2 separate regions of the Homo sapiens genome follow, and region 1 is linked to region 2. Evidence: fine-mapped expression QTL. Tissue or cell type: whole blood. Region 2 holds a variant in brackets; the other region holds the start of a gene. All regions are shown on one strand. Distances are from middle to middle. Region 1 holds the start of ZNF195 (zinc finger protein 195). Region 2 has its middle 30 kb from the start of ZNF195.

What was found. PIP is the estimated chance that this variant, and not a neighbour inherited with it, causes the effect.
Region 1: it holds the start of ZNF195, and the variant in region 2 is fine-mapped to the expression of ZNF195 in whole blood (INTERVAL, PIP 0.97).

What each region holds. Positions count from the first base shown.
Region 1 is chr11:3,371,400-3,387,877 of GRCh38, reverse strand. It overlaps ZNF195 (zinc finger protein 195), which reads left to right and starts at 8,732. Exons shown (of 6, transcript NM_001130520.3): 1 at 8,732-8,840; 2 at 16,175-16,301. The coding sequence starts at 8,838. It also overlaps the pseudogene TSSC2. RefSeq lists enhancers at 8,485-8,779, 8,468-9,031 and a silencer at 8,957-9,026.
Region 2 is chr11:3,400,861-3,417,338 of GRCh38, reverse strand. It overlaps the pseudogene TSSC2 and the pseudogene FAM86GP. Among named protein-coding and RNA genes, the nearest start is that of ZNF195, 30 kb to the right of the region's middle. RefSeq lists enhancers at 7,052-7,552, 7,553-8,053, 10,283-10,794, 10,795-11,308, 11,666-12,499 and 1 more and a silencer at 16,006-16,300. The variant T/C (reference allele first, on the strand shown) is at 9,591.

The sequences.
Region 1 (16,478 bases), 29 kb after region 2:
ACAAGCTGTACACACATTGTGACATTATTATTAACGTCCCGCTAGGGTATTGCGAATAATATCAGAGTGTGTAGAGACTTGTGACATCAGGATTCACATTTCGCTACAATATCACGAATAATATCACAGGGTGTATACCCCCTGGAACTTAAACAGTGACACCTTCCTAGAATATGGAAAATAATGTCCCAGGGTGTTAACCAAGTGTGGCAGTAGAGAAAAAATACTAGGAGAAAGGGAGTAATATCACCCTCTCTCCCCCGCTGGATATTAAGAGCCACATCGCAGTGGGGAGAGGGCGCCCGCCGCGATGCGGGAAGTAATATCACCCGCCTCTCCCCCCCGGATATTACGATACAAATCGCAGGGGAGCGCCGCGCCCCCCGCGATGCGGGGAGTAAGAGCCAGCCCCTCTTGCCCCCCTGGCTCTTTTTTTTTTTTTTGAGACGGAGTCTGGCTCTGTTGCCCAGGCCGGAGTGCATTGGCGCGATCTCGGCTCACTGCAAGCTCCGCCTCCCGGGTTCACGCCATTCTCCTGCCTCAGCCTCCGGAGTAGCTGGGACTACAGGCGCCCACCACTACGTCGGGCTAATTTTTTGTATTTTTAGTAGAGACGGGGTTCCACCGTGTTAGCCAGGGTGGTCTTGATCTCCGGACCTCATGATCCACCCGCCTCGGCCTCCCAAAGTGCTGGGATTACAGGCGTGAGCCACCGCGCCCGGCCCCCCCTGGCTCTTAGGACCCCCCATCGCAGGGGGGCGAGGCGCCCCCCGCGATGCAGGGAGTAAGAACCAGCCACTCTTGCCCCCTGGCTTCTAGGACCCCCATCGCAGGGGGGCGAGGCCCCCCCCCCGCGATGCGGGGAGTAAGAGCCAGCCCTTCTTGCCCCCCTGGCTCTTAGGACCCCCCATCACAGGGGGGCGAGGCGCCCCCCGCCATGCGGGCAGTAAGAGCCAGCCCCTCTTGCCCCCCTGGCTCTTAGGACCCCCATCGGAGGGGGGCGAGGCGCCCCCCATGATGCGGGCAGTAAAAGCCAGCCCAGCATTCACCTTCTTCTGCTTTTCTTCCATGTGAGGACACCATTTCATGCTCTCTTGCCCTTCTGCCTCCCAACATGTAAGGACACAGTAAGAAGGCCCACACCAGACACCAGCACCTTGATCTTTGACTTCCCAGCTTCCAGGGCTATGAGAGAGTAACTTTCTGTTATCAATTACCCAGTTCAGATATTCTGTTATAACAGCAATAATGGACTAAGACACTCTGTAATCACCAAATCATTGCTAATAAAAGGCTACTTTGTTTAAGGGATGCACGTTAAACCCTGAGAAGAGCATAAGAGGAGCACATTGCTGAAAAGAAAACTGAAGTCTGCTTACTAGATGTACCTGCTCCCGAATTCTCCTGGCCATGCTCTTGGGCATTGGTTCCCATTGGCTGCCTTCTTCCTCAGGCCCCTGGCCCAGCTGCCCTTGTCTGGGACTCCTCCCTTTTGCATGAGAATTTCCCGCCTTTCCTTCTGTTTCTCCATCAGTCCCTACTTCTGATCCCAGTCCCAGTGAGGTATCCTCCAGATTGACAAATTATATGCTAATCTCTGCAGAGATGCACCTTGCTTCTCATAAAGGCAGACTTTTACCTGATTAAATGGTGAATTTAACAGCTCAGTCAGCAGCATCTGTGTTTGGGTTACTCATTCATCTCAGGGCCTCCCTAGAATGGCCACGTAGTTGTCTCTGCTTCTGTCTATTGAACTAGCTTTCCTTATATTAAACCATCCTTGTATGCCTGCAATGAATCCAGCTTGGTTATAGTGTATATGTATTTTGATTCCCTGTTGAATTCTGTTGACTAACATTTATAAATTTTGCATGTCCTTTCAGAATTAAAATTTGAAGGATGTTCTTGGAAGATGGTAGCTTGAGTAAATAGTACCTCTCCTGCTGACTTTCACTCCAACCCATTTCAGCCTCTGCTCTGCAGCACAGTGGGCAGAGAGGTCGTAAGGTTGTGGATAAGGTTTTAGGCTTCACTTGAAACTCTGGGTGGGATAGAACTTGGGTAACAGCATTGGAGACCATGGTCTGGGAGAAGATTGGAATGTGATGGGTCTGAAGAAAAACTTGGACCACAAAGAGCCACAGAACACAGTGAAGATCAGTGTCTGTCCTCTTCCCATTATACTTATCAAAATCCAAAAAAATGTACAACACGGAATGTTAACTCCAATGTGGACAATGGACTTGGGGTGATTATGATGTGTCCACACGGGCCCATTGATTGTAAGCAATGTACTGCTCTGGTGTGGCATGTTGATAGTAGGTGTGGCATGCTGATAGTAGGAGAGGCTGTGCATGTGTGGGGTCAGGTGGTTATGGGAGCTCTTTGCACTTTCTGCTTAATTTTGCTGTGAAGCAGAAATTGTTCCAAAAAATAAAGCCTACTGAAAAACGGTTGCAAATGAATTGAAGGTGATCATTAAGATTCAAATTAATGGCCTCAAAGATTAAGTAGAAGAAAAATCTTGAATTGACAGGAATACAAAGAAATTGAAAACATGAGAGAAAAGATTTGAAAACAGACCCAGGACATCAGGTGCAAATAACATAGGAGTTTCAGGGGGAGGAAAAGAGGTAGATGGAGGAGAGGCCGTGATTAAGCACAAAAAAAGAAAATTTCCTGAAACAAAGGAAAAGCTGAATCTGCCTGTTAAAAGGGCTAACCGAGTTTTGGGTAGAATTGATGGTGAAAATGAACCTTTAGGAATATTCTGGTAAACATGTATGAGTTGCTAGACACGAAGAACAAGAATATAGCAATATGTCACCAGTGTACTCACCTAAGAATACAGCAACATTTCAACAGTGTACTCACCCTAGAATACAGCAATACATCACCAGTGTACTCACCTCTGAATACAGCTACATGTCACCAGTGTACTTGTCCAAGAATACAGGAATATATCACCCACGTACTTGCCTAAGAATGCAGCAACATGTCAACAATGTACTTGCCTAAGAACATAGCAATATGTCACCAGTGTACACGCCCAAGAATACAGCAATATGTCACCAGCGTATTCACACAAGAATACAGCAACATGTCACCAGTGTACACGCCCAAGAATACAGCAACGTGTCACCAGCGTACTCATCCAAGCATACAGCAACATGTCACCAGTGTACGCGCCCAAGCATACAGCAACGTGTCACCAGCGTACTCACCCAAGAATACAGCAACATGTCACCAGCGTACTCACCCAAGCATAGAGCAACACGTCACCAGTGTACACGCCCAAGAATACAGCAACACGTCACCAGTGTACTCACCCAAGAATACAGCAACATGTCACCAGCGTACTCACCCAAGGATACAGCAACATGTCACCAGTGTACTCACCCAAGAATATAGCATCATGTCACCAGTGTACTAGCCCAAGAATACAGTAACATGTCACCAGTGTACTCACCCAAAAAGGCCAGTACTGTGACTACCTAAGCTTCCCCCAGCATGGCCACACTATGAGACCTGGGGCAGCCGAGACCCGGGAACTGCTCCAGGGCACCAGGACCCATCTGTCTGTGCTCACTCACCTTCCTCGGGTGCTCGCATGGGGCTGCCACTGACGACGAACTGCTGCAGCTCCTTGGTGATCTGGCCCTGGTCATGGGACAGGAACTGTAGGGTCAGGACCATAAGGAGCTTCACCACCTGTAGAATGGGAACAGAGGCTCATGATGAGTGGCAACCTATTTGATAATTTAAACAAATCTATTTGTTGAATGAGTGGAGAAACAAGGTGAGGTTTGAGTCCACAGTGGTCAAGAGCATGGGGGCTTCAGAAAAGGGCAGGACCAAGTTCAAATCCCTACACTTCGAATTTCTACTTCATGCCATGCAAAATTACTTTACCCCTCCTAACCTCAATTTCCTTCTGTGTGAAATCAGAACAATCAACTTTCCCTCCTCATTTTCTTTTTTTTTTTTTGGAGGTGGAGTCTCGCTCTGTCACCCAGGCTGGAGTGCAGTAGCGCAATCTCGGCTCACTGCAAGCTCCACCTCCCGGGTTGACGCCATTCTCCTGCCTCAGCCTCCCAAGTAGCTGGGACTACAGGCACCCACCACCACGCCTGGCTAATATTTTTTTGTATTTTTAGTAGAGACGGGGTTTCACCATGTTGGCCAGGATGGTCTCGATCTCCTGACCTCATGATCCCCCCGCCTCGGCCTCCCAAAGTGCTGGGATTACAGGCGTGAGCCACTGCACCCGGCCCCCTCCTCATTCAGTTTCTGTCAAGATTTCATGAGATAATACCTAGAAAACATCTAACCTGTTTACGTGGAAGATCATTTTTGTCATAATTAGTAGTGGGATCAATTTCACTGTTATTGTATATACAGCTCTGTGCCTCAAACCTGCAAAAAAAAAAAAGAAAATGTTAACTCTAAAAAGTGCTAGTGGTTTATAATGCTTATATTATTAATTATAGCCCTATTTAATCGCACAGACCTTGTACATGGCAGGTGCTCAATAAACACTTGCGGAATCAATGAATGTGGGCTCCAGAGCCACACTGTGTAGATTCTGTTCTGCCTCCACCACTTATTAGCTGTGCCATCTGGGCAAGTTCATTCACCTCTTTATGTCTCTGTTTCCTTTTCTGTAAAATATATCTAATACGAATCCCTAGCTTATTAAGTTGTTGCAAGGGGTGAATGATTTGGCATACAGTAGGGTCTTGTTAAACATTAGCTGTGATGAACTCCTTCCAAATCTTCATTTTCAGAGCCACAACGAGGCCACAGTGCCACCTGGAGTGTAAGCACACAAGATCACCAACTATGTTATCTTTCCACCATGGGTCCAAGGCTGGGTAGTGAAGGCCTGGAGGTTTCTCCTGCCTCTATCTTCCCAGTGCCCTCATGGAGACTTTTGTATTTTCCTCTTTACATCCCCACAGATAGGGTCCAGGTTGCCCGACACAGCTGGGCAATCCACAAGGCAGTGACCCCCTGTGCCAGCCCTGTGAGGTAGCTGGAGGATCATTGTTCCTTCCTTCTCAGGCTCTGGGCAGATGCCAGGGCTGGGGTGAACCACGCCCTCAAGTTTCTTGCTTTGGAGAGTCACATTTTCCCTTGGGAAGGAGGGTAAAGGTCAGAGGAGCCAGAGACCTGTGACCTGCTTGTGCCATGAGCCCTAACTATAAGGACCTGAACACTCTATATTAAAAGTCCAAAGCTTGGGGGCTCCACCGAGCTTCTCACCTCACGGCCTCTGCTAGGGAGGATGAATGCTTTGTCCTCCCAGAGCTTTGCGAGCTTGTAGCACACAGCCTCCCCAGCACAACATCTCTTGGAAACCTCAGACTTTGTCTTAAACATTCATGCAAATTTTGCATCTTATTTCCCATTATGTCAGCATGTTTTAGAAAAAACCCTCAACTTTCCTGAATATACAAGAGAATTTGACGTTGTAGAACATTGTGCCTTTTAAAAAAATTGTGTTATTTAAAAATTTTCCCCACCCCCCCTTCTGCCCCCCAAGACTGCCAAATCCTTTTTGAACAAATATTAGGAAATGCTTATTATGTGCCAGATATGATTCATGGTCTTGGGGATATAGCAGAAAACAAATACCTGGGTATGAAATAATCTGTACAACAAACCCCCATGATGTGAGTTTACCAATATAACAAATCTGCACCTGTGTCCCTGAACGTAAAAGTAAAAAAAAAAAAAAAAAAAGCAGTGGTTTGGGGTCTGGCCCACACTCTAATCCCCCGGAGACCTTTAAGCCACAATGTTGCCCAGGCCCCACTCCAGTGATTCTCATTTTACTGGTCGGTGGCAGCTTGGGTTTGGGAAATTCTAAATGCCATCCCCCCAGGTGATTTTACATGTAGCAGGGGTGAGAACAATTGATTCAGGGTAAAGAATGCATTCACTGTAGCTGGTTTCCATGCATACTGATGGGATTTGCCACATAGGAGCTTGAAAAATAGCTCTTCCTTATTAAAAATCAACGGACACCTCCAAGATGTACTTAGCTGTTCGGATAAATTGCTGCAGAAAAAAAGTCTTCTCAGCAGATGTATCTTTAAGTCACTTGATTTCAGAGTAAGAGGTTGTTTCAGTCACAGTACTTATAGTCAGTGTTGAAAATTATGAACAGCCTACAAATACCAAAAAGGAATGAAAGCATTTACAGACATATAGGATACATTCTGTTTTAAAATTGCTCCTCTGTTGTTGGGCTCTGATTTCCTAAAGTCATCTATCAGCCATTTCCCTCAAATTATTCCATGTCCTTCCAAGAAGCTTCTGCAATTTCTCGAGGTGATTGATTATTCCCAATGGTAAACAGCACCATATGGGTCCAAATCTAAAAGGAATTCTGCCTCTATTGCAGAAGAGTTACTCTCCAGAAACTTGCAGGCCTTGGAAAGCTGTATGAGCAGTGCAGTCTATGCAGGAGTAAGGGCTGCAGAGCCAGGCAGAGCTGATCCTGAGTACCAGCCCAGCTGCTTAGCAGCTGTGGGACTTTGGGCAAGGTTCTTGACTTGGAGCAGTAATATAAACCTCTTCTGCAAGAAAGGGTAGAATAATACTGATTGCAGAAACAGCAGCAATGCTTCATTACTCTCTGTATCTATGCTCTTTATTGTGTGCTCTTACAGCTCCTCCCATCAAGAGGCCGAATGTGTTTCCCAAACTTTGCATCTGGCTGGCACTATTTTCTCTGGCTATAGAAAACTGTTGTATTAGTTTGTTTTCACACTGCTGATAAAGACATTCCTGAACATGCGAACAAAAAGAGGTTTAATTGGACTTACAGTTCCACATGGCTGGGGAGGCCTCAGAATCATGACGGGAGGCAAAAGGCACTTCTTTCGTGGTGGCGGCAAGAGAAAAATGAGGAGAAAGCAAAAGTGGAAACCCCTGATAAACCCATCAGATCTCGTGAGACTTATTCACTAACATGAGAATAGCATGAGAAAGACCCGCCCACATGACTCAATTACCCCCTTCCCCGGTCCCTCCCACAACACACGGGAATTCTGGGAGATACAATTCAAGTTGAGATTTGGCTGGGGACACAGCCAGACCGTATCAACTGCGAATATGACAGCTTTTGTGCTAGTTTTGGGCCTAGGCTCAAAAGGTCTTAAATGCTTCTGTGTTTCTCAGAACCTTGCTATCTTTATGAGATCAAGCTATCAGAACCTTGCTATCTTTATGAGATTAGCCAGCTGGAGGATGACATACCATGGTGGGGAGAAGGAAGGTGCCACTGTTGATAGCCATCTCATCCCCAGAAGCAGAGCCACCTAGTCAACCAGCAGCTGGCCATACATACATGAAGCAGTCCAGTTGTGACAAGAATAGCTCAGTTGAGTTCAGCGTGAATGGCTGATGAACTCAATCATGAGCTATTAAGTTTTCGGTGATTTGTTATGCAATAGCTAACTAATACATGCACCCAGGGCAGATAGGGTGCCAGGATTCAATGAAAGGTTGATTCCTAGTTACCTGCAAGAAGAAAGCACTTTATAGGTACTAATTCTCCCCCCTTATTTAAAGTTGGATCTTTTGTAAGATAATGTTCCGTCATACAGAAATGCATGTACACATGTATATATGTGATTGGTGCTTTTACTCACACAGCCCCCCAACCACGGGAAGAAACAGACAATCACAGCTTGATCATTAGGGCTAAGGCCAAATAGCAAGATAAGTCTGCCTCTAGTCTATTTCCTCCATATCTAAATGTTGGAGGTCAAGGCTATGGACAGATCTGAAGATGTGTTCTCTCCTCTTAGGGCCCCATTATTGATGGGCAGCAGTCCTCTACCCGTGGATATTTTCTTTTGCTTTCCCCTATGCTCTCTAGGATCACCATCTCGTCCACCCTTCGACCGGAGGAGAGATGTTTGTAGCAAGAGGCTGTTCCCTCACCTCTGGCTGAAAAGGGACTTTCAGACCCTCCACTTCCTGACATAAGGGAGGTTAGACCTCAGAGCTGCACTTTAGTGTGGCAGCTATTGATCATGTGTGGCTATTGAATAACAGGAATACAGCTGGTCTGAACTGAAATGTGCTGAAAAGGTAAAATACAGAGTGAGCTTCAAAGATTTAGTACCCCAAAATATATACTTCCTTACCAATTGTATATTGACCATAGAGGAAAATGGTTACATACTGGGTTAAATTATTACAATCAACTTCACCTGTTTCTTAGTACATTTTAAAACGTGGCTACTAGAAAATTTAAGATTCACACATGGCTTACATTTTAATTCTTAGAGGCTTGAATCCTTTTTGAAATTTCAGGCTGTCTGTTCAAAGGACCAAAAGCCAGGAAGGCCATAAAATATAAAAATTCAAAATGATTGTCTTTATTTTCTTCTTTCCATTGGTGAATAACATATATTTATTATTTATAAATAAACATAACCGCAGTCACAAGATGAAATGTAAATATCCTCTAGGTGGGGCCGGACAGCGCAGGCAGGAAGCCCCGCTCCAAAAGATCGCGGCCAGCACCTGTCCTTGCTGTCTCATTCGGCCCATTGTCTGATTACAGCTCCTGTCACTCAGGGCCTGAGGGGGCGGGGCGTGATGCCCTATCCAATCAGAGGAGTAGGGGCGGGGACTGTCCAATCAGGCACATGTCTGGAGAGGAGAGGACGGCTTCCGGGATCTAGCGGGGCCTTTGTCCCGACAGAGCTCCACTTCCTGTCCCCGCGGCTCTGTGTCCCCTGCTAGCCGTAGGTCGTGTGACCCGCAGGCACCGGGAGATCCAGAAGTGAAACGCCAGGCTCTCTGGAGGCCAGGAGATGGTGAGTGTAGGGGCCAGGCCTCCTGAGAGACAGGGAGGGGCGGACTGGAACCCGCGGTACCGGCTCGGGAGGAACCGGGCTGCCCGGGTGGGTTCCGGGCTCCGCGGACCCGAGGCCCCTCCAGCTGCACCATGGCGGCCGGGCCCCGCGCGCCCCGGCGCATCCCTGCAGAGCGGCTTTGGCCCAAGCCCAGAGCCATGTCCCCCCGGCAGCTCTTCGCCCGCAGACCCTCGTCTCCCCGAGTCAGGAAGGGAGAATCCCGACTCCGTGGGTGGTTTGTGCATAAGAGGATGATCTGTAGCCCGTGGGGGCCCCAGTCCCTCCTTTCTCTCGAGGGAGTCCTTGCAAAAATGTGAAAGAGTTTTATTTGAGCAAAGAGCGATTCATGAATGGCAGAGGACCCAACCATGTTTTTTGGGTTTGGAGGTCCCACCAGCCGGCCTTGAAGGAAAGGCTTTTATCAGGTGCATGAGGAAGCAAACCACATTCATTCATTAGTTCGGTACAGTTACGTCATCTCCTGATTTCAGCTATCTAGGCTGAAATTTTCTGGTCCTGTAATCAGAAGTTAATTAGAGGTTTGTGGTTGACGAAGCCTGAATTTTGTTTCTGCAAGATAGTCATTTGCAAGAAACGCATCTGAGTTAGATTTTTTTTTTTAACCTAAGAACCCAGGGCACTAGAGCCACCTCAGTCGGATTGCCTGCTATTTAATTATTATTATTTTTGAGATGGAGTCTCGCTCTGTCCCCCAGGCTGGAGTGCAGTGGCGCGATCTCGGCTCACTGCAACCTCTGCCTCCCGGGTTCAATCAATTCTCCTGCCTCAGCCTCCCGAGTAGCTGAGATTACAGTCCTGCACCACCACGCCCGGCTAATTTTTGTATTTTTAGTAGAGACGGGGTTTCACCATGTTGGCCAGGCTGGTCTTGAACTCCTGACCTCATGTGATCCGCCTGCCTTGGCCTCCCAAAGTGCTGGGATTACAGTCGTGAGCCACTGCGCCCAGCCTGGACGGCACTTTTTAAGAGATTTGTTTTCTGTTTGTAATCATTCCACGTGACAGGAAAGCAGAGAATCATCCCCTGACGCTATTGTAAAAAGTCTTTGTGCCTCTCCTCCTTTTTATTTTCCCTAGGCACAGACACCTTACCAGAATGTCTTTGGTTTGAGGTTCCACTTTGGAAACTTGACAGGGTGATTTGCTCTCAGCCACCCTCTGGACTTTTTCCTCAGTTTCAGTATTGTCCAGGGATAACACAGGATGCCCACCATGGCCATGTCTGCTGGAGCATCTAGTGAATTTCAGGCCCTGGGTTATTTCTCAGAGGACAGCCTGAGGTATGAAGTGTGGCCTCTCCAGGGAGCAGCTGGATGCCCTGGGCTGAGAGAAATCTCCTGGTCTACTCTTCCTCTAAAGAGGTAACCACTTAGGACATTAAGATTGTCTTCACCCAACCCAACTTTCAATCCCTGGAGACACATGGCTGATCAGCCAATCACATGCCCCTGTCAGAGGGAAAAGACCGAAATCATTTCTGCCCTTTGGACTCTCAGATTTGTGAAGGGAGACAGAATGTTTCAAAGAGCAAGAAAAACTCCACCCCGTGAGATGGTGCAAAACCTGTAAAGCAAAATTCACCTGGGACACTCAGCGGGGCACAGTGCAGTGTATCATCGGGGGTGGCCGGTGAGCACTTCGGTGAACAGGATGGAGGTGGGAGAATCTCCCAAGGAATAGAATAGCCTGACTTGACACAAGTCATTAGCTGTGTCTGTGTTCCAGTCGGCACTGCCACTCTCTGTGTCTCCTTGAAATAATTTATTCACTTACTGCAATGTTGGATTTTTAATTGTAAATTTACATTTTATCAGTAGAGCTTGAAAGGTAAGAAAATACTTACAAAGGACATGAAATAGGTCAATTTCAGGAAAAAAGTTAAATATCTAGTCATACATACCTTTTTCTTCTCCAGAGTGATTAAGGGTAGAAAGTTACTTAGGTCTGTTCTTTTGTGGAAGATGATTTCCAACAGAATCCCAGGGCTTAGCTTTGGGAATGCTACCAGGGAACATAAAATGCTTCTTGGATGGCTGTGGAGAATGTTTACATTTTCTACAAAAAAATTATGGTAGATTACTTGGTAAATTGCATAGATTCATCAGAACATGAGCTCTTTTTGCAGGATGAATTTGTTGTCATGAGTATCTCTGTTTTATATCCTGTTCTCTAGATGTCTGAGCTTAATGCTAAGTTGTAGGAGATGGAACTTAGCACTTCTAAAAGTGTTCACATGTGATTGTTTACTATATGATTTGTTATGGAAATAGTTAAATGACAAGTTCATTGTCTGAAAGCAATAAATAATTTTGCTTTTTCTGTGGAGGTGAAAGTGTAAGTGCTTACAGTTTCCTTTTCTTCTGTAAACTGTTTCAGTGATTTTGTTGGATGTTTCCAACACTGGGTATTTTCTTATTTAAACCTAAGTGGATAACCCTGATTGGGAAGTTGAAGCCCAAGAACAGTCATTCCAAGCTAAGGCTAATACTGAGTCTGCAAAAGAAAGCAATCGAAGGCCTGGCTCAAGCTTGTCCAACCCACAGGCCTGGGCCACATGCTGGCCTGGGCTTTGAATGTGGTCCAACACAAATTCGTAAACTTTATTAAAACATTATGAGACTTTTTTGTGATTTTTTTTTTTTTTCAGTTATCAGCTATCGTTAGTGTTAGTGTATTTTATGTGTGGCCCAGGGAAGCCAAGATCGGACACCCCTGGCCTAGCTAGTGCTTCCCAAGGAGCCTCCCCTGCGGGTGCGCCAGACTGCTCACAGCAACCATGGAAGGAGCCTTTCTACAGAGAGAAGCTGCAGAGCCCGGGAGCACTGGGGACCCACAGGCAGATGCAGTTAGAGTTGGGATGGAAGGAAGCTGGGGAGGACTTCCTGGGTATGGAATCGTTATTATCCTGGGGCTGTTTCTAGACTTCGTCAAATAAAATAAATTTAGCTTTAGATAGGAAGTTATTGAACTCTAAAGGAGGATTGCAACAGGGAGAAGGTAGCAACTATCATGGATCTCATGGCCATAGAGGGCATCTGTGCAGGGTCACCAGGAACTCTCTCACCAGCACCTGGAGTCTTTTGGACATTCAGGAGTGCACTGTGCAGACGGGGCTCAGGCTGACAAAACGGTCTATCTGTGCTTCTGTTGTAGAATAAGAGAAATGAGTCACCCAGGGTTTGTTCCTCCCCTCAGAGAAGAAACCTCATTGGTATCCACATGGGAATTACTCCAGTTTTTCTGGTACTTCAGTAAAAAACAAAAATGAGATCTGGAGATTCAAACTGATAAACTAATTGATTCCATCCTGTGTAGCCATTAGGAAAACAGAGAAGGCAGCCATGGTCCCCGCAAGCCAGAAACTTTTCCATTTCCAGTAACTGGATAAATCATTGAATTCAGCGTCTTGGGGTCAGCATGAAGAAGGGAGTGGTCAAAGGGACTTCTGCTTCATTTGGGCCATTTTCCTGATGTGGTTGTTGTGAGTTCTGATGTCATATTGAAGGGATATTCAGACAGACAAGGTGGTGGTGGTATTATTTCTGTTGCTTTTGCCCGGCTAAAAATAAATATTTAGCTTCTACCATATCTGTCCTAGAAAATCCTAAAGGTTTCGGTTAAATTGCTTGTTATTTTATGTTATAAAATAGACAAGGAAGTGGCCAAAATAGATTAAAATTATACAAACCCTGGGATTTAAATTTTGGGGTGGGGGGCAGTTTTAGGAAAAACAGAATTGTAAATACTCTAGTAGCATAGAGAGCAGAATCCTGCGTAGGGCCCTCTCCCTGCCCAGACATGCCCAGACTCTCCTTCTCTGAGTCTCATCCAGGTCTGGCTTCACCCTGGACTCTCCTCCGACAGAGTTAACTACAGAATTAAATCAGAGTTTTGGGTTTAGCTACAGAGTTAAATCAGTTTGGAGTTTAACTACAGAGTTAAATCAGAGTTTGACTCCTGCTGCCTCTCCGGAACTGATACACAGAATTTTCGGAAACCCCAAAGCAGATAAATGGGATCAAAGGACTCTCTATTTTGGAGCCTTAATTTTTCTTTTTTACTAACACCAGCGCTGTTAGAGACATCGTATCCAGCAAGCTCTTTCTCAGTCCTGTGGGTCTAATAGTTGCTTCACAAGCCACAAGAAAGTGAAGATAAACACAACAATGGAAAGTGCCTTTGCACTACACTTCATCCCCTCTGTATCCCTTCCATTGGTCTATCTGGAGCTTTTATCACTACACTTTTAAAACGTTAATGATAGGAAAATAGAAGAGGAACCACAAAGCCTGGTCCCTTCATCTATATCTTGAGAGTTGCAGGACACTTGGTTCCATCACCCAGGGTGTGGTGAGGATTAACTCACATGACGTGAGGTGCCCAGCACAGTGCTGTCACATACATCCGAGCACCCCGTGCCTGCTTAATAAACACTGCATTCATACGTGTGTACACATTGTTTTCCAAATGCAGACAGACTCAGACATTGCTTCCTTCTCCAGCCCTGGAAAACTTTAAAGAGCCAGGAAATAATGTAATCTTTCAGAATAGAGATTGGCTGTCTCCATTTGCACCAGAAGAACTTATGTTGTGGTCAGAGGGTTGGGTGTAAGGGACTGTGCTGGGGCTGCTTTCTTTAGCTGAGTGTTAATGATCACAAGTCTTGGGGGAGCAGCATCACCATTAATGGCAGAACTGTTAAAAAATCCAACCCATGAACCCCTTTGAAATCTTCAGAATCACATGACTTAGAGTGGGGCCAAAATTACCAAAAGATTCATATGCACATTGAAGCTTGAGAAGCAAGGCTTAGCTAAATGGTTCTCAGCCTGGCTTCTAATTAAATCACATGGACAACTCAAAAAAAGGCCCTCACCTTTGCCCTCACAGATTCTGCCTATTGGTTTGGGTGGAAGCACCAGTGCTGTTTAAGTCACATGCATCATGGGATTCTAAGGTGTGGCCAGAATCAGTGATGGGGGGTTTCAGATGCATTTGTACGAGTTGAGCTCAGCCTTGGTTCCAAAGGGAGGTCACAGGGCCTTCTTTGCCTAGGTTTCAGAGGCCAGCTCAGTGCAGCTTATACTCCAATTGCTGAAGCAGAATTGCTGTTGTTTAGCAGGAGAGGGAACCTGAGAGCAGGAAGAGAGAAAGTCACATTTTGATCTCCATGTAGAAGTTTACTGTTCCTGAATCTCTTTTATAAAGAACAGAAAAGCGTGGACTTTTTCTGTATTTCTTGGTCTTTCTGTTGATGGTTGTGGTGGTAGCAGGTGAAGGGGTTGTGCTAACACCTTTAAAGGCATATTCTCACGATGCAGGTGTGATTTGTCCAGAGAATCTTTCCTAAGAGGAAATCCCAGAGAAGCAGGAGAAAGAGAAAGAAATGGCTGGTGCTCAGGTAAATGCATCTCAGGTCAGGGGTTGTGTCCACTTTTGCTCCTGAAATGTCATGTGTTTAGAATTTGGAAACCTTTACTTCTCTACTTGTGGTGTTTCTCCATAGTAAGTTTGTTTCAACTACTTTTTTTTCTTATAATAATGAAGGGTCTCTGAAAATATTTGTTTTCTATATACCAAAGCCGTCTCTCTGTTATCTTCACCTTGACTTCTTATATGCCATGAAGAATTCTTACCATGACTTTATGACCTGCAGTATTAAAAAGTTCACTTCGTGGCACTGAACTTGTGGATACCCAGGATTCCTCTTGAGGATGGGGTGGGTTTTTGGATATCAGCAAAGAAGGGAAATGTGCACTCTTTAGGTTTCATCTGGATGCTCCATAAGCTGCATGCAGAACAGGACTAAGAAAATAAACATTTAAACCAGATGACATTTATCTCTCAGAATAACTCAAAGCATTCTGGAAAAGAGAAAAATGAAAAGACACTTGCTTTTTAGAATGCTAAAGAAAGACTCTTTTAATACACTATTAGAGATTACTGCTGGGCATGGTGGCTCATGCCTATAATCCCAACACTTTGGGAGGCCTAGGTGGGCAGATCGCTTGGGGCCAGGAGTTCGAGACCAGCCTGACCAACATGGTGAAACCCCATCTCTACTAAAAAAATACAAAAATTATCCAAGCGTGGTGGCACATGTGGGTAGTTCCATCTACTCCGGAGGCTGAGGGACGAGAATTGCCTGAACCAGGGAGGCAGAGGTAGCAGTGAGCCGAGATCGCGCCACTGCACTCCAGCCTGGGCTACAGAGTGAGACTCAGTCTCAAGACAAAAGAAAACAGATTACAGAACCTGGGAGATATTTGTCAGAACCTGGGAGATATTTGTCAGAACATAGGAGATATTTATTTGTCAGAACCTGGGAGATATTTATTTGTCAGAACCTGGGAGATATTTGTCAGGACCTGGGAAATATTTGTCAGAACCTGGGAGATATTTGTCAGAACCTGGGAGATATTTATTTGTCTCTTGAACTTTGCATAACACTAAGGTTTCGGTATGATTTGATTCAGATTATAATTGACCTTTTGGCCAATATCACACCAGTAATATGTCCTTCTCTGTGCATTGGCACGTGATAAAAATCTGTCCTATTACAGTTGATATTAGTTTTATTCAGTTGTTTAAAGAGCTCCCTGACAGATTTTCCATTGTGGAGTTTATTTTTTTCTCTTTTAAGTACCTTGAGGAGATTTACTAATTAATGTGCATAAATAATCACATTTAATCTGAAAGGTTTTGCTTCTTAGATTCTTTTTGCATATGCCTTGCTTTAGAAGATGAAGAATCTCATCTCTCTTTATGGTTTAGAAAAACTGGGATAAACCCAAGCTTGCCACTTACAGGATTTTTGACAAAATATTGTCCTTGGGCCCAAAGGACTGGCATCACTGGTGAGCGCGTTAGAAATTCGGAAACTCAGCCTTGACCTCCGATTTCCTGAAGCAAAATCTGCACACTAGTTTATTGGACACATGAAAATTGGAGAGGCAGCTTCTAACTCACCATGACTTTTCTGCCTGCGAAATATACACAGCTTATTCATGTGACGTAAATGTAGCACTCAAAAATGGACATGCCTTTGTTGATGCCCTTAATGTTATACTTGTTATCAACCAGAAAAGTATTGTATATACACTGCTTATGTGGCTCTCAGGCAATTCTCTTTCCTCAGAGTTAGAGAGTATTCTTCTGCTAAGAATTACCTTATTGTATAATTTCAGTCACTTGTGTAAGTCAGAACCAGTTCTCTTCACTCGCTCATTTCACCTCGAATCAAGTATTTGTTATTGTTGTTGTTTCTTCTTCAGACTCTGTTGACGTTCAGGGATGTGGCCATAGAATTCTCCCTGGAGGAGTGGAAATGCCTGGACCTCGCTCAGCAGAATTTGTACAGGGATGTGATGTTGGAGAACTACAGAAACTTGTTCTCCGTTGGTGAGGATAACTTCAATACGTAGTTCCTCCTATGCCCTAAAGAGTTCCTTTCGTTCCTCTGCGGAATGTTTTTTGGGAGTTTCTGCGTTGCATGAATGAGTTTCAGATCCCTGCTTTTAAGAAAAACATGGGGAATAGTTGATGTAAAAAAAAAAAAAATCTTCAAAATGTGGTTCA
Region 2 (16,478 bases):
TTCCTCAGTAGGCAGTAGCAGACCTATCTTAGTGAAAGGGCCACACTTTTAGCAAGTAAACAATCCCCTGCTTCTCCAATACCTGCTTTCTCCCTAATCCTCCCCAAAAGGGTGCATCTGTGGTCACCAGCAGGTCTGCCCTGTGCCACCAGGAGAGGGCAGCAGTCACCCAGTGTATATTGTTGCTGCCCTGTGAATCTTAAGATGGGGCCAGCCATGGAGAAGCAGCCTGCTGACAGCCACAGCCTGCAGCATGGGCCGCCCTCACAGTTCTGCCTGGGCTCACTTAAAAGCACCTTTTGTTTTCCTCCTCTCTGTCATGGTCATGTGGCAGCTCTCACGGAATCCTTGTCTCCTGCCCTAGACTACACCTAACCCTACCCTCTCAACACCTCTCGTTGAAGGCCCTCCCATCCAGGTTTCCCTACCAAGTGAATTTTTTTTTTAGAGACAAGGTCTCTTGCCCAGGCTGTCCTCGAACTCCTGGGCTCAAGCAGTCCTCCCATGTCAGCCTCTAGAGTAGCTGGGACTATTCGGCACACACCACCATGCCCAATGAAGTGAATATTTTACATGCCAGCTGGCTGGTATTACACCATTCCATCCCAAATCTCCCCTCCAAACTTGGTGAAAATCATCTGACCATTTTTACAGATTAGAACGAAAGCAAACAAGCTCTCACTCTGTCTGACCCCAGCACGAGGCTGTCCACACAGAGCTTTTGGACAAGCTGTACGAGGACCTGGCAGAGACCCTGATGGCCAAGGAGTCCACCCAGGGCCACCCGAGCTATTTGCTGGTATGAGAAGGGCACCCTCCTCCCCCTCACAGCCCAGATACCCTTCCTGCACAAAGTGAAAACGTGGGTGTGGGTTCAAATCCTGACTCACCCATTCTGCAGTCTTAGACATGAGGTCCGTCAACCTTCTTTAGCCTCAGTTTCCCTGTCTGTAAATCAAGCACTTCAACAACAACAGCATGTCTCATGGGGTTGTTGGGCATTTGTCCAATAGGTGACACACTCTACCTGCTTCACAAGGACCTGGTGTCCAGTCCTCAAAGAATACTTGACAGGTCCTGGTGTGGTGGTTCACACCTGTAATCCCAGCACTTTGGGAGGCTGAGGTGGGTGGATCCGAGGTCAGGAGTTCAAGAGCAGCCTGGCCAATATGGTGAAACCCTGTCTCTACTAAAAATACAAAAATCAGGCCGGGCGTGGTGGCTCATGCCTGTAATCCCAGCACTTTGGGAGGCTGAGGCAGGTGGATGACCTGAGGTCAGGAGTTTGAGACCAGCCTGGCCAACATGGTGAAACTCTGTCTTTACTAAAAATACAAAAATTAGCGGGTGTGGTAGTAGGTGCCTCTAATCCCAGCTACTCGGGAGGCTGAGGCAGGAGAATCTCTTGAACCCAGGAGGTGGAGGTTGTAGTGAGCCAAGATCACGCCATTGCACTCCTGCCTGGGCAACGAGAGGGAAACTCTGTCTCAAAAAAAAGTGGAAAAATTAGCCACACATGGTGGCACATGCCTGTAGTTGCACCTACTTGGGCAGCTGAGGCAGGAGAATTGCTTGAACCCAGGAGGCAGAGGTTGCAGTGAGCCAAGATTGTGCCACTGACTCCAGCCTGGGTGACAGAGCTCAAAAGAAAATAAGATAAAACATAGATACAGAAAACCACAAAGGAAAAACATAGCATATTGAATCATCACAAGGCAGCCACCCCTTCATAGCCACACCTGGCCCCTGGCCACCACTGACCTGTGCTCCATCACCAGAATTCCGTTGTCTCAGGAATGTTCGATGAATGGAATCCTGTGTGGCCTGAGATGAGTGTCTTTCATGCCACGTGACACCCTTGAGGCCCGTGCAAGCTGTTGGCATGTCAACAGTTAGCTGCTTCTCATTGCTGAGTGGCGATTGGTCCTGTCATGGTTTATTCAGCCATGTGGTGGATGGCTACTTGTCTTCTAAGCCACTTGCCTTCTGATTGCTGGACTGACTCTCTCGCCCTCTCTTGGTGCAGCCCTCGGGAGGCTCAGTCACACTCTCCGAGAGCACAGCCATCATCTCCCATGGCATCACAGGCCTGGTCACATGAGATGCTGCCCTCTACCTGGCAGAATGGGCCATCGAGAACCCGGCAGCCTTCTCTCATAGGTGACCTCGGGGCGCACGGCAGGACACCGAGGCAGGCTCACCCTGGTGCAGTTACAGACATGGTCCCCTTTCCTCCCGCCAGGACTGTCCTAGAGCTTGGCAGTGGCGCCAGCCTCACAGGCCTGGCCATCTGCAAGATGTGCCGCCTCCAGGCATACATCTTCAGCGACTGTCACAGCCAGGTCCTCGAGAAGCTCCGAGGGAATGTCCTTCTCAATGGCCTCTCATTAGAGGCAGACATCTCTGCCAACTTAGACAGCCCCAGGGTGACAGTGGCCCAGCTGGACTGGGACGTCGCGACGGTCCATCAGCTCTCTGCCATCCAGCCAGATGTTGTCATTGCAGCAGGCAATGCCCAGCCCCGGGCACTCTGTGCAGGCGGTGTCCTTGCAGCTCTACCCAGCTCTGGGCTCTGGGAAAAGGGAACAATGGACGCTGTCGGGCATGGACATGATGGGGCTTCCAGAAGAGTTACTCTGGGCCTCCAGGGTGACATCAAAGGACAGGGGTGCCTCTTAAGGTGACCTTCCAGCCACAGCCCTCTTGTTGGAGACAGGCATACTCCCATTACAGTCATCACCACATGGCTCTGTCCCAGAGCCATGCCTCTGTCTTTCAGAGACCACAGGAGGAAAACAACCACTTCTGGGATGAGGACAGGGCCCTTGAGAGAAGGTGGTGTTTGGCTGGGCCACCGAAAACCCCTCGCCCCTGCCAGCACACTCGGTCTCCTCTCTGGTTGAACAGAGCTCTGCCTGTGGTCCTGGGTCCCAGCCCTGAAACCCACAGGTCCAGCGGTGGCCAGGGACACAGGCCCACCCCTGCAAGCCAGCAGACAAATCGGCAGACACCTGAAACACGAAGTTCATGGCAGGGTCAGGCTTTGTGTCATTCACAGCCCTCTAGATAGGCCGAGAACCAGAGCTCATTTTTTAAGGAACACCAGTGAGTCTGGAGATTTTTTTCTTTTGCTTCGGTCTTTTGCAGCTTTCTCTACTAAGGGTTCTCCTTTTTCACCCAAGCAATTGCCTTTCCATCTAATGGCCCAAATGGTCAAATGGCATCTACTAGTCTCATATGACTGCTGCCTCTCTGGCCTCGCCCTGCTGCTGAGGTCAGCATGACCTGGAACTGTCCGCTGGTCCCTTTCAGTAACCTGAAGCTTTCACCGTAGACGTGCTGTATTGCCCAGAATCCATCGTGTCGCTGGTCGCGGTCCTGCGGAGGCTGGCTGCCTACCGGGAGCACCAGCGGGCTCCTCAAGTCTACGTGGCCCTTATCGTCCGCAACCCAGAGACGTGCCAGCTGTTCACCACCGAGCTATGTGAGCCCACACGCCCACCCGGGCCTGCATGGTCCCCGAGCTGTCCCTGCGGGACTCCAGTGGAAGTGAAAGAACTGGGGGCCGAGGAAAAGCTAGGATGCCCCACACTCCCACACCATGCGGGGAACTAGGGCAGAGGCCGGTGAGCAGGGTGGGCCTGGGGCGTGGGAGCTTGCGGCAGGAGGAGGGCAGCTCAGCACAGGGAGGGAGGATCTGAGCCCAGCAGCCCTACTGTGTGCTTCAGAGCAGGGTTCCCTAAGCCCTTGGGCGTCGGTTTCCTCATCTATAAAATGGAGGTGGTGGGAGGGGCAGTCGGGGTCAGGGCTGGACACAGCTGTGGCCTGCAGGACGCTGGAGCACAGGCTGTACAGGCGGATCCACCACGCCACTGTCCTGAGCACCCAGTTGATGGAAGACGAGCAGGGTGACTATAGAGAAGGGGAATTGTCCCCGTAGTGGGCCAGCCACTGTCCTCAGACCTGACATTTGTCAGCCCCCAGCACCTGTGAGAGTGTGCTATCATTGTCCCATCTCACCGACAAAGACACTAGGACACACAGAGGCCAAGCAACCCCTGAGCTCCCACAGACTGCAGCTCGGCCACCTGGCTCTCGTGCCTCCACACTACACCCAAGCCCCCCATTGCCACCAGCCTTTGCCCCAGATCACCCTGAGCACAGCCCCTCCTGGCAGCCATGTGCACAGATGCACGCGCAGCAGCCTCTGCCTGCACACAGAGACGTGGGTCCAATGCCTGTCCACGTGGGGCAGCGCGTTAACTACAGAGCCAACAAACAAGCCAGCACACGAAGGCATACTGGGTTCCACGACAAAGTCCTGCACAACCTCGCACAGGAGGCTGGCCGGGCGCGGGGCTCAGGCCTGTCAACCCAGCACTTTAGGAGGCTAAGGCAGGGGGACTTCTTGACACCACGATTTCAAGACCAACCTGGGCAACATAGTGGGACCCCATCTCCACAAAACATTCAGAAACTAGCCGGGCATGGTTGCGCACACCTGTAGTCCCAGCTACTCGGGAGGCTGAGGTGGGAGGATAGCTTGAGCCCAGGAGGTGGAGGCTGCAGTGAGCCCTGATCTCACCACTGCACTCTAGCCTGGGCAACAGAGCAAGACCCTGTCTCAAAAAGGCAAAAAAAAAAAAAAAAAAAGGAAGTCTTTCTTCAGATACTTATGTGAAAAAATAACTGCAATATCTTTGAAGTGAAAAAAACAGTGCCAAGCAGAACACATAGTATAAGCCCCCACCCACCTTTTTTTTTTTTTTTTTTTTTTTTTTTTTTGGAGACAGTCTGGCTTTGTATTGCCCAGGCTGGAGTGCAGTGGTGCCACGGCCCACTGCAACCTCCCACCTCCCAGGTTCAAGCTATCCTCCCATCTCAGCCTCCTGAGTAGCTGGGACTACAGGTGCGTGCTACCACACCTGGCTAATGTTTGTATTTTTTGTAGAGTCGAGGTGTCGCCATGTTGGCCAGGCTGGTCTTGAACTCCTGACCTCAAGCGATCTGCTGCCTCAGCCTCCCAAAGTGTTAGGATTACAGGCGTGAGCTACTGCGCCCAGCCCCATTTTTGTTTAAAAAATAATAATAATCACCCACACATGTTTATGAGTACCTATATTCCCAACTACTCAGGAGGCTGAGGCAGGAGGATGGCTTAAGCCCAGGAGTTTGTGGCCCCCTTGAGCAACATAGCAAGACTTCATCTCAAAAAAAAAGTATCACAATAATCATTTTCACATAAGTATACCTATTGGGGAAAACCTAGAATATATATGTAGCAGGCTCGTCCAATCTGTGGCCCAACACAAATCTGTAAACTTTCTTAAAACAGTACGAGGTTTTTTTGTGATTTTTTTTTCTTTTAGCTCATCAGCTATTGCGAGCATTAGTGTATTTTATGTGTGGCCCAAGGCGATTCTTCTTCTTCCAATGTGGTGCAGGGAGGCCAAAAGATTGGACATCCCTGATATACACATTAACAGGTGCCATCCTTGGATGGCAGGATTATAGAGACTTCTACACGTTCATGTCTGTACTACTTTATTTTTATAAATACACATTTTCCACTCGTAACAAAAAACTGTGATTGAAAATCATCCCGTGTCACAGTGTCTCACGCCTGTAATCCCAACACTGTAAGAGGCAGAGGATTTGGGAGGCTGAGGTGAGCGGATCACTTGAGGTCAAGAGTTCAAGACCAGCCTGGCCAACACGGTGAAACCCCATCTCTACTAAAAACACAAAAATTAGCCACGCGTGGCGGTGCACGCCTATAATCCCAGCTACTCGGGAGACTGAGGCAGGAGAATCACTTGAACCTGGGATGCATTGCAGTGAGCTGAGATTGCACCACTGCACTCCAGCCTTGGGAACAGAGTAAAACTCTGTCTAAAAAAAAAATAATAAAAGAGTCTGAGGCAGGAGCATCACTTGAGGCCATGCATTCAGGACCCCATCTCTACAAAATAAAAAAATTACTAGCATGGTGGCATGCACCTGTCATCCCAGCTACTCAGGAAGTGGGAGGATTGCTAGAGCCCAGGAGTCGAGGCTGTAGTGAGCAATGACTGTGCCACTGCACTCCAGCCTGAGTGACAGAACAAGATCGTATCTCAAAAAAAAAAAAAAAAAGAAAAGAATCATTCTGGCTAACGGCTCTTCAGACATCTGTGCTTATGAGAACACCAGCCCCTTCTAAGCTGTGTGTGTGTGTGTGTGTGTGTGTGTGTGTGTGTGTGTGTGATTTTGTTTTTTTTTTTTGAGATGGAGTCTCACTCTGTCACTCAGGCTCGAGTGCAGTGGCGCAATCTCTGCTCACTGCAACCTCTGCCTCCTGGGTTCAAGCAATTCTCCTGCCTCAGCCTCCCAAGTAGCTGGGATTACAGGCACCCGCCATTGTGCCTGCCTAATTTTTGTATTTTTGTAGAGATGGGGTTTCACCATGTTGGCCAGGCTGGTCTCGAACTCCTGATCTCAAGTGATCCACCCGCCTTGGCCGGCCTCCCAAAGTGTTGGGATTACAGGCGTGAACCACTGTGCCTGGCCGCTTTCTAAGCTTTGTGAAGAGTGAGTTGACTGAGCAGCCAGGTAAGTGTGGGTTCAGATCTCTGCGTCTGTCCCGCTGTGCCAAGTGCTGGGCAGACGCGGGCAGAGACTGGACAGCGGCACGGTGCCTGCTGCTAGCCATTTCTATGCAAAACCAGATTTCTGGTCCCATCCTGGAGGCCAATTCTAGGCACCTGGGTGGGCCTGAGAACCTGTGAACCAAGTAAACTGACTTGTACACGCCCCCACCCCGCCAGGCCTGTCCTAGCAGCCCCACACAATACGCTCATGTCCTGTCCCCAAACACTGCCATCTTCAAACACATGTCCTCTGTTTCCAGGCCGGGCCGGGATCAGATGGGAAGTGGAACCTCGTCATGACCAGAAACTGTTTCCCTACGAAGAGCACTTGGAGATGGCAATGCTGAACCTCACACTGTAGGACTCACACACGACTCCAACGGGATTGTGAGAATCAAGTCACTCTCGTGGGAAGAGTTTTTATATGGGAAAGCGGATAAAACTTTCATTGGACTGGAATGTTTGGAGAATGTTAATTTCCAAATCAGGAACCACAAACTGCCCTCTGATAAGACATCGGCTATCTAAGCTTGTGGGTGCTCCCTTTCTGCCAGCAGTTCTGGTTCTTAAGAAAATCGCCATCAATCAGACATGAAAACTCTGGCTCCAAAAATAGCATTTTCTTTGTGCAAATAAAAACGTGTGTATCAAGTATGATGTTCCCCCCAACGTGGACACACTCGGTTCCTCACAAAGCCAAGCCCGCTGCAGCTGCCACATCTGTGGACACACTCGGTTCCTCACAAAGCCAAGCCCGCTGCAGCTGCCACATCGGTGGACACACTCGGTTCCTCACAAAGCCAAGCCCGCTGCAGCTGCCACATCCCTGGACACACTCGGTTCCTCACAAAGCCAAGCCCACTGCAGCTGCCACATCCCTGGACACACTCGGTTCCTCACAAAGCCAAGCCCGCTGCAGCTGCCACATCGGTGGACACACTCGGTTCTTCACAAAGCCAAGCCCGCTGCAGCTGCCACATCGGTGGACACACTCGATTCCTCACAAAGCCAAGCCCACTGCAGCTGCCACATCCCTGGACACACTCGGTTCTTCACAAAGCCAAGCCCGCTGCAGCTGCCACATCCCTGGACACACTCGGTTCTTCACAAAGCCAAGCCCGCTGCAGCTGCCACATCCCTGGACACACTCGGTTCCTCACAAAGCCAAGCCCGCTGCAGCTGCCACATCCCTGGACACACTCGGTTCCTCACAAAGCCAAGCCCGCTGCAGCTGCCACATCGGTGGACACACTCGGTTCTTCACAAAGCCAAGCCCGCTGCAGCTGTCACATCGGTGGACACACTCGGTTCTTCACAAAGCCAAGCCCGCTGCAGCTGCCACATCGGTGGACACACTCGATTCCTCACAAAGCCAAGCCCACTGCAGCTGCCACATCCCTGGACACACTCGGTTCTTCACAAAGCCAAGCCCGCTGCAGCTGCCACATCCCTGGACACACTCGGTTCTTCACAAAGCCAAGCCCGCTGCAGCTGCCACATCCCTGGGCTTATGGTGCAGCAGGTGCTTTTTTCAAGACAGGAATCAAAATGTTAGGAACACGGCAGAAAGGTGACACCTGGAGACCAAACGCAGGATGAGGAGTACTGCAGAGGTCACAGGGAAGTCACAGAACAGTAATACGCTAGCAGGGGCATGGGGCGTGAAGAACAGAAGAAGAGAGGAAGTGTTTCCGAGCCTCCAGAAAAGAAATCAGAGCCAAGCACAGCTTCCCGGGTCACAGAACCAATTCATTCACCAGGTGGCACTACTGCCATCATTTCAGCTTCTGGCCACTGGGAGGCGCTGCTCGAAAGGATTTGCCCTGAGACTCTGAGAAGAAGCTGTGGGAAGGACAGCAGGGGTCCCGGGGTTTTAGCCTCTGGCCCAGGAGTTATGTGTCCATAACCAAAGGGAGCACAGTCTGCACCCAGCTCTAATCCCATCGGAGCTGCTGCGACTCCCGCAGGTTCTTCCGGAACTGGTTTAGCTTGCCCGCAGGATCAGGAAAGTTTGAGAAAAGCACCTGCAAAAAAATAAAGAGCAGAGCTTACCTCATTGCCTGTCCCCACCCCATCCCATGTCACCACCTGGCTGACCCCAGGTCCCCTACCCAACAACAACCCCTCCCAAGTTCCTAACTCCCTCACTTGGACTCGAGACTCTTCATGCCCCAGCAGCGCTCTGCCTCCAACTTGACATCATGCTTTCTGGAAACTTCCCCGTATGTCCCACTTTCCCACACTTGGTGCCCTGGAGCACCTCCTGGCCTCTACATGCTGTATGTTCCCCTGCGAGCACCCTCCTCTTGGCCTCCGGCCAAGTCCCACCCATCTGTGGGTAACAAGGGGGTGTCGGTGTTCTTTTCAGCCTTGCTAAACTGTCTGAATCAAGGATCACAAACTACAGCCTGCAGGCCAAATCCAGCCCACAGCCTGTGTTTGTAAATAAAGTTTTATTCGAACAAAGCCACACCCCTTAATCGACAGATGATCTGTGGCTACTTTCACACCACAACAGAGTACCATGGTTCTGACAGAGACTGGGGGACCCAGTCTAAATGACTTCTGACCTGGACCTTTACTGAAAATCCTGCCAATCATTCTGTTGGCAAGAATGATGTATTACTTTTAGCAATAAGAAACAAGTAACCTTTGCAGAATTCCACCCATCTTTCAAGGCTGGTCCCAGAAGCTCCCTTTGCCCACGCACCTACCTGACCCTGATCACTTCCTAAACTGCAGCCCGGCCCACCCGGCTCCAGCATCATTTGTGGAATGTCAGCTCCATAAATCCAGAGGGCAGGTGGGGGTGTGTCCTAACTTTCCCGAGCTTACTGTACCGAAACGGGACAGCAGAGTGGGCCGGACTCTGTGACCTCTGCTCCCTCCCTAGCTTTTCCGCCAGACCCCACATGGTCCCACCCTGGCTGTGGGAAGCAGGGATCAGGGAGCGTGGCTCGG[T/C]GCCAGCCTCCAGAACCCTCCCCACCCTGGCGTGGTGGCAGATGTGGCTACCTGCAGCTGAGCTGCCAGTTCCTCTGAGTCCTCAAAGACCAGGCCATTTTCTTCATGTTTCACCAGCTCATGTAAACTGCAGAGAGAACCAAGGGAGCCTGAGAGCTGCCTGGAGAAGACACCAGACCCCTGGGGTGCCCACCTGGGCTCCCCCCAACAACCCATGCTCAAGCCAGGCTGGGGGTTGGAACAGGGGGTGTGGTTTCTGGGAGCTGGTTCTTAGATTTGGCATCTGAAGGGTATAAAGGCCTGGGGGGGTGCACATCGAAATGGCCAAACCGATTTGAGGAGGGAGCCTTAAGGAGGGTTTCTACCTTCTGTGCTGGATGCTCTTCAAGGACTGAAGAATTATTTTTGCATGTTTTGCTTAATTCCATGGCCATGGAACAAGTAAAGGCAACACCCTGGGGACTGGCTCAGCACATAAAAGATGACTTTTCTAGGGCACCAGGTTTGATCCCGACATTCCCTGAGCTCAGCTCACACGAGGGGCTCACATCCCTGACTCCCATCCAGGAGCCGGCTCCTGAGCAGGGGCCAAGGGCTCAGCTTGTGCTGGGGCTACTGCTTCTAGAATCTCCTCTAACACCGCCCTTCCAAATGCCCGTCTACGCTGGGTGCAGTGAGGCCACAGCACGACACTCATTTAACTCATTCAAACCCAGCACGTGAGCTTGGCCAAACAGGACATGGTGGGAGAGAAAGAAACAAAGAAAACCATGTAAGCCTGCAGGCAATTCCCGCCAATTCTACTCTAGGAGCAAAAGCCCCGAGTGGAGTTCCAGTATTTAAGATGCTTTTTTTTCATATTAGGTTGGTGCAAAAGTAATTGCCATCTTTAATGGCAAAAACCGTGATTACTTTTGTATCAACCTAAATATAACATGAGCTCTAAATGGAAGCAACTACTTCAGTGAGGCTCAGCCCAGACACAGTAACCGCAGGGCTCCTCCTCGTGGCCTCCAGTGTGTGCTGGACTGACCCAGGAGCAGGGCCTCACTGTGGGCAGCTCGCTCTGCACTGTTTCCTCCTCAGCGGTGGATCTGTGAAGCTATCCCCAGAAAGATTCGGGTTCTGCTCCTGCCACTTGAAGTTCACGGCACACACAGGCAAACAGCACCCGAACATGTCCACCACCTTCATGGGCAGGTCCAGGCCACTGCAGGACGTGTGCAGACAGACACCCAGATCCACCGACCCTGCTGGGCAAGAGGGGTGCGGTCAGAGCGCTGGTCTCTGCCCTGGGAACACAAATCCTCCCAGCACAGTGAGGCAACATCCCCCGAGGGGAGTGAAAATCGGATAAGTCCCCCGACAGCCCCAAGCACAAGTGGCTTAAGCTGGCCAAGCAGCCACATGGCCTGGCTGGGACATCTGAAAATGTAAGTTGACACTTTTTCTACGTAACCACAATTTGGTTTTTTTGTTGTTGTTTTGTTTTGTTTTGAGACAGAGTCTCACTCCGTCACCCAGGCTGGAGTGCAGTGGCACAATCTCAGCTCACTGCAACCTCCACCTCCCAGGTTCACCTCCCGCATGTAAGCCCAGCATTTTGTGAGGCCAAGGTGGGTGGAACACCTGAGGTCAGGAGTTCAAGACCAGCCTGGCCAACATGGTGAAACCCCATCTCTACTAAAAAAAATACAAAATTAGCGAAGCATCGTGGCAGGTGCCTGTAATCCCAGCTACTCAGGAGGCTGAGGCAGGAGAATTGCTTGAACCTGGGAAGGCGGAGGTTGCAGTGAGCCAAGATCGTGCCATTGCACCCCAGCCTGGGCTACAAGAGCGAAACTCTGTCTCAAAATAATAATAATAATAATAATAATAATAATAAAAAACCACAGCACACCCACTACAAACCAGCTGTCAGTGTGAAAATAAAGTGAAACAGCTTAACATTTCTAAAGACTAGCTGGGGCCAGGCGTGATGGGTCACGCCTGGAATCCCAGCACTTAGGGAGGCCAAGGCAGGAGGATCACTTGAAGTCAGGAGTTCAAGACCAGCCTGGCCAACACGGTGAAACCCTGTTTCTACTAAAAATACAAAAATAAACCAGGTGTTGTGGCGGGCTCCTGTAATCCCGTAATCTACTCGGGAGGCTGAGGTGGGAGAATCGCTTGAACCCAGGAGGCGGAGGTTGCATGAACTGAGATCGTGCACTCCAGCCTAGGCAACGGAGCGAGACTGTCTAAAACAAAGACTAACTGGAGAGTCCTGCCAGGAAAAGGCCCTCAGCCTCCAACTGCTCTGCTCACTCGAAGCTGGAAGATGTGGCTCTAGAGACGCATCAGGACCAAGCCACGACTCCCCACTTGGAGAAGTCAACGGGGAAAGAGACGGAGGCAAAGGAGAACCATCTCACTGGGAGAGGCGACGCTGTTTCACACATCGTCCCTGTACCTCCCAAAGCCACTGCCCTCCCACACCTGGGCAACAGTGGCCCCAACCCCAGGCCCAGCCCTCCTGCAGGAAGGAAGAGGACTGAATGGAGGGCGCGGAAGGCTGAAAGGACGTGGCCTCCTCAAACCCCTTGGTAAAGGGCCTCTGGGGCCACCTGGCAGGGAGGGGCTGGCACACCAGGAAGTAGCCTCCTCCCGGGAGTTCAGCCAGAGCCCAGGTCCTGTCCCCAAGTGGCCTCCAGAGCCACATTTTCAGAAAAAGTACATCCCGCCCACCCCTGTTCCCCCTGCTTAAGGCCCCGCCTCCTCCCTGAGCCTCCTGCTGGCCTCTCACCTAGAAGCGGGGGTAGTCCTCGGCCTCCAGCCAAGGGGTGCAGACCTGGATGTGCTGGAAATGCTTCTGGTGGATGAGGCGGCTGTAATACTCCCTCGGAGGCCCTTTGCCTTCACAGAGAAGAGCAGATACTGCCATGGACTCGTCTCTGTCCCTGCCAATTGGCCTCAGGCCCAAGACACTCCCCCCGAGGAGGGATCCCTTTCCCAGAAGCTCCACCCCTCGGCCGCTCCAGTCAGGTCCCATCCAGGCCCTTCCAGAAGCAACGCAGGAGCCCCTAGACCTGCAGGGGTGTGTGCACTCTGACCCCTGACGCACAGCCCTGCATTTGCAGCCAGCTGGCCTCGGGCTGCAAACATGGCGGGGTAAGCACTGGCCTGGCAGTCGACCGCCCACTGGGTGGACCCAGCCTTCTGTCTGTGTTGTGCACAGGGGACACGAGGACTCCCCCTGCCCTGCCACAGCCCCCAGAGCACATGGCGCAGGTTCCAAACCGCCCCTGCCCTGCCACAGCCCCCAGAGCACATGGCGTGGGCTCCAAACCACTCCTGGGAGCCTAGTGGCCAGAGGAGGGAGGAGAGCAGGACCAGCAGCTGGCCCAGACCCCGCCTCTTCCCACACCACTTCCGCTTTTCTCCGTCCTCAGAGTCACCTTGAAAGGGCTCAGCAGCAGTAACTGTGGGACAGGGGTTCTTCCGTTTGAAAAATTAAAAGAGGCTTGGTTAAGGCACCAATGACATGGCCAGGCACAGTGGTTCGTGCCTATAATTCGAGCATATTGGGAGGCCAAGGTGGGTGGATCACCTGAGGTCAGGAGTTCAAGACCAGCCTGGCCAACATGATGAAACCCTGTTTGTACTAAAAATACAAAAATTAGCTGGGTGTGGTGGGCCCCTGTAGTCCCAGCTACTCGGGAGGCTAAGGCATGAGAATTGCTTGAATGTGAGAGGCGGAGGTTGCAGTGAGCCCAGATCACACCAGTGCACCCCAGCCTGGGCGACAGAGACTCTGTCTCAAAAAAAAAAAAGAAAAAAGACACCAATGATGTAACAACAACAAAAAAAAGATGCTTGGAAACTACTGAAAAAGTAGAAAGTTTGGTATCTACAGATTCAAATCTGGGCTCCCTGCCCTGCTGTGAAATCCTCTGAGCCTCAGTTTCCCCCATGTCAAGCAGTATAAGACCCTATGGCAGAGAGCTGCAGTGAAGATTAAGGAGACAAGATCGTGGGAAGCACAGGGTAAAGGCTGCGTGCCCCTCCCCCTCCGCCATCCCCCAACCAATCAGACACCCAGGGTCCTAGGCGGTACCTGTTATCACACAGACGAGAGAAGGAAGGTTGTGTCCATCAAGAGTCAGTTGTTCAAACTCTGTGTTTAAAAAAAGAAACAATTCTACATGGAATTTCTGATAGAATTTCTTTTTTTTTTTTCCTGACAGACTCTTGCTCTGTCACCCAGGCTGGAATGCAATGGCGTGATCTCAGATCACTGCAACCTCTGCCTCCCGGGTTCAAGTAATTCTCGTGCATCAGCCTCCCAAGTAGCTGGGATTACAGGCGCCCACCACCATACCCAGCTAATTTTTGTATTTTTAGTAGAGACAGGTTTTGCCATGTTGGCCTCGAACTCCTGACCTCAGGTGATCTGCCTGCCTTGGCCTCCCAGAGTTCTAGGATTACAGGTGTGAGCCACCGTGCCCATTCAGAAAAAAAGTTTTAAATAAACAATAGCCAGAGTCACCTGTTCAGGTGGAGAAAGAGCACTGCTCTGGTGGGGAGGCCACCAGCCTCTGTGAGATACTCTCCTGGAGGGGGCATTTCAGCCTGAGGGCCTGGTCACTGAATGACCCAACTGGGGATTCAGGGCGGCCCACCTCCACCACCCCCGCTGTCCCCAGGCTGCCCCACCCAGTGGCCCGGGACAGCAACACGCTGCAGGCCAGGCAAGCAGCTCACAGCTCAGCGGCCCCCGACAAGCCCATAGATCCTCACCGCAGCTACACACCTACTTTCTAAAGCTGCCAGCAGATGGAGAAGTCTTCGTCCTCTATGAGAAGAGAATTGAATGTCAGGGGCCTGTTTCTAGACACCCCTCTTCCAGCTCACACGCCCTCCCCTTCTCATTGAGACTGTGGCGGGGTGGGGGCATGCAGGACTGGCAGGGGTGAGGAGAACACAGGTTGGCCAGGTGCCCGTCACACCAAGCCCAAGTGTTCTAGGGGTCGTGCAGACCTGTCCAGCCTGTGCTGCTGACCAGCAGGGCTGGCCGCTCGCGGAGGCGCATCACCAGCCCGCTCCCAGCATCCCGCTCCATGAAGGCCGACCGCTCCGTGTCTGGGTCCTCAGGTTCTGAGATGAAAGAGCAGGAAAAAAGCCTGTGAGAGGCCACAGAGCAGGCCCGGGACCCAGGACGGGCATCTCCTGCCATGGCAAGGCCTGCAGGCTCCCAAAGGTTGGGGTGCCCAGCCACATCAGCAGCACCAGGCCACCCCTGCCATCTGAGGCCTGGGCTTGCTTTCTCTAATATTGTTGCTGGGTGCTAAGGTTACAACAGCAAACAAGACTGACTCATTCCTTTTCTCCACGCGACTTACTGTCTTATCATCCCCTGGACTCAAGATGAGGGTGCAGGGACACCCTCCCACACCACTCCAGCTTACCCAGGGGCACACCTCAGGGTGTGTGGACCTGCACTAAGGTCCCCTCCTTAGCCCCGTGAGACACCCCAGGGGACACACAGGTCCACAGATCCTGCCACAGGCCTGGGAACCCACTGGCAGGAGAGTAAGACAGCGCAGGGGTCCACAAACATTTCTTAAAGGGCCAGAGAGTAAATACTTCAGGCTTTGCGGGCCACAGGTTCTCTGTTGCAAAACACGATTCTGCTGTTGTAGCTCAAAGGCAGCTGTAGACAACTCAGAAGTTAATGAGTGTGTTGTGTTCCAATGGAACTTGATTTACAAAAGCAGGAGACTGGCCTGTAGCCTTAGTTTGCCAACCCCTGGATGAGTGGGTTCCCAGGTCTGCAGTGAGAAGGGGAGAGGACAGGGCATTGGCAAGCAGGAGAGAAGGCAGCTGAGGATGGGAGGCCTACCAGGCCCTGAACGGAGAGTGCGTGCCGCCCAGCTTCATGAAGAGTTGGTGCTGCAGGTCCAGAGGTCTCTTGAAAGAAAGATGCTGGCTTGTCATAGACGGTCACAGCCCTGCAATGAAATCATGGCAGGGCTATTGGGAGGGCTGAAGAAAGGCCTCAGGAATAGAGGACTCAGAGGCTCCAGGAAAAGAAGGATGCTTGGGGAATCCAAGTCTCAGACGATGACAAGAAGAAGCCTTGCAATTACTTGGGAATGCACAGAGAGATGTTCTAGGACCAAAATTGCCTGGACCCCCTGGCTGGCTGGGAAAGAAACTCTGCCCCCTCCTCTCCCAGCTTCCCCAAATTTTCCCATAATGTTGCCAAGCATTAGTCCAGCGTGGAGGCTACTTTTTGCTCAAACCACTCATTTGGGTCCCACGCCCAATGTAACCCATCCTCAGCAAAACAACCTTTATTTCCTTCTTCCACGTTTCCAGAAAGTTCCCCTAAAGCCCTAGGAATCACCAAATGAAAGGGGCTTTTTACAAACAGGAAACTTAAGTGGAGTGCCAATACACAACATGAATTGCACCAGGCTGGGTCTAAGATAAAACCAGACTGTGGACAGCAAGACAGATAAGACCCACATGGCTCTGCACTGCCTGGGTCTGTTATGGTGTGGAGGAATGTCTTAGTCTGTTGCTCCTGTGGGTGTAGCTAAAGCACGAACCAGGAGTCTTCATCCTTAGAAAGCAGTTAGACAGACACCTGAGAACCAATCCCAAACTGCAGCCTTCCACAGAACCTTCTGGAACCTTCCCGAATGCAACTCATTACTGCCAGAGGGTCTTTGATGAGAGTCTACTCTCCACCATTTGTCTTCAAAGAGAATACCCACATATTCTCTTTCCATGGAAAGGTAAGTTATTAGAGTTTATGCAGTCTGGTATATTAATTGAGAGCTTCAAAGAATGTCACGTTTACGATTCAGTCTCACAGACTGGGTTAAAAAGGCAGTGTTGACT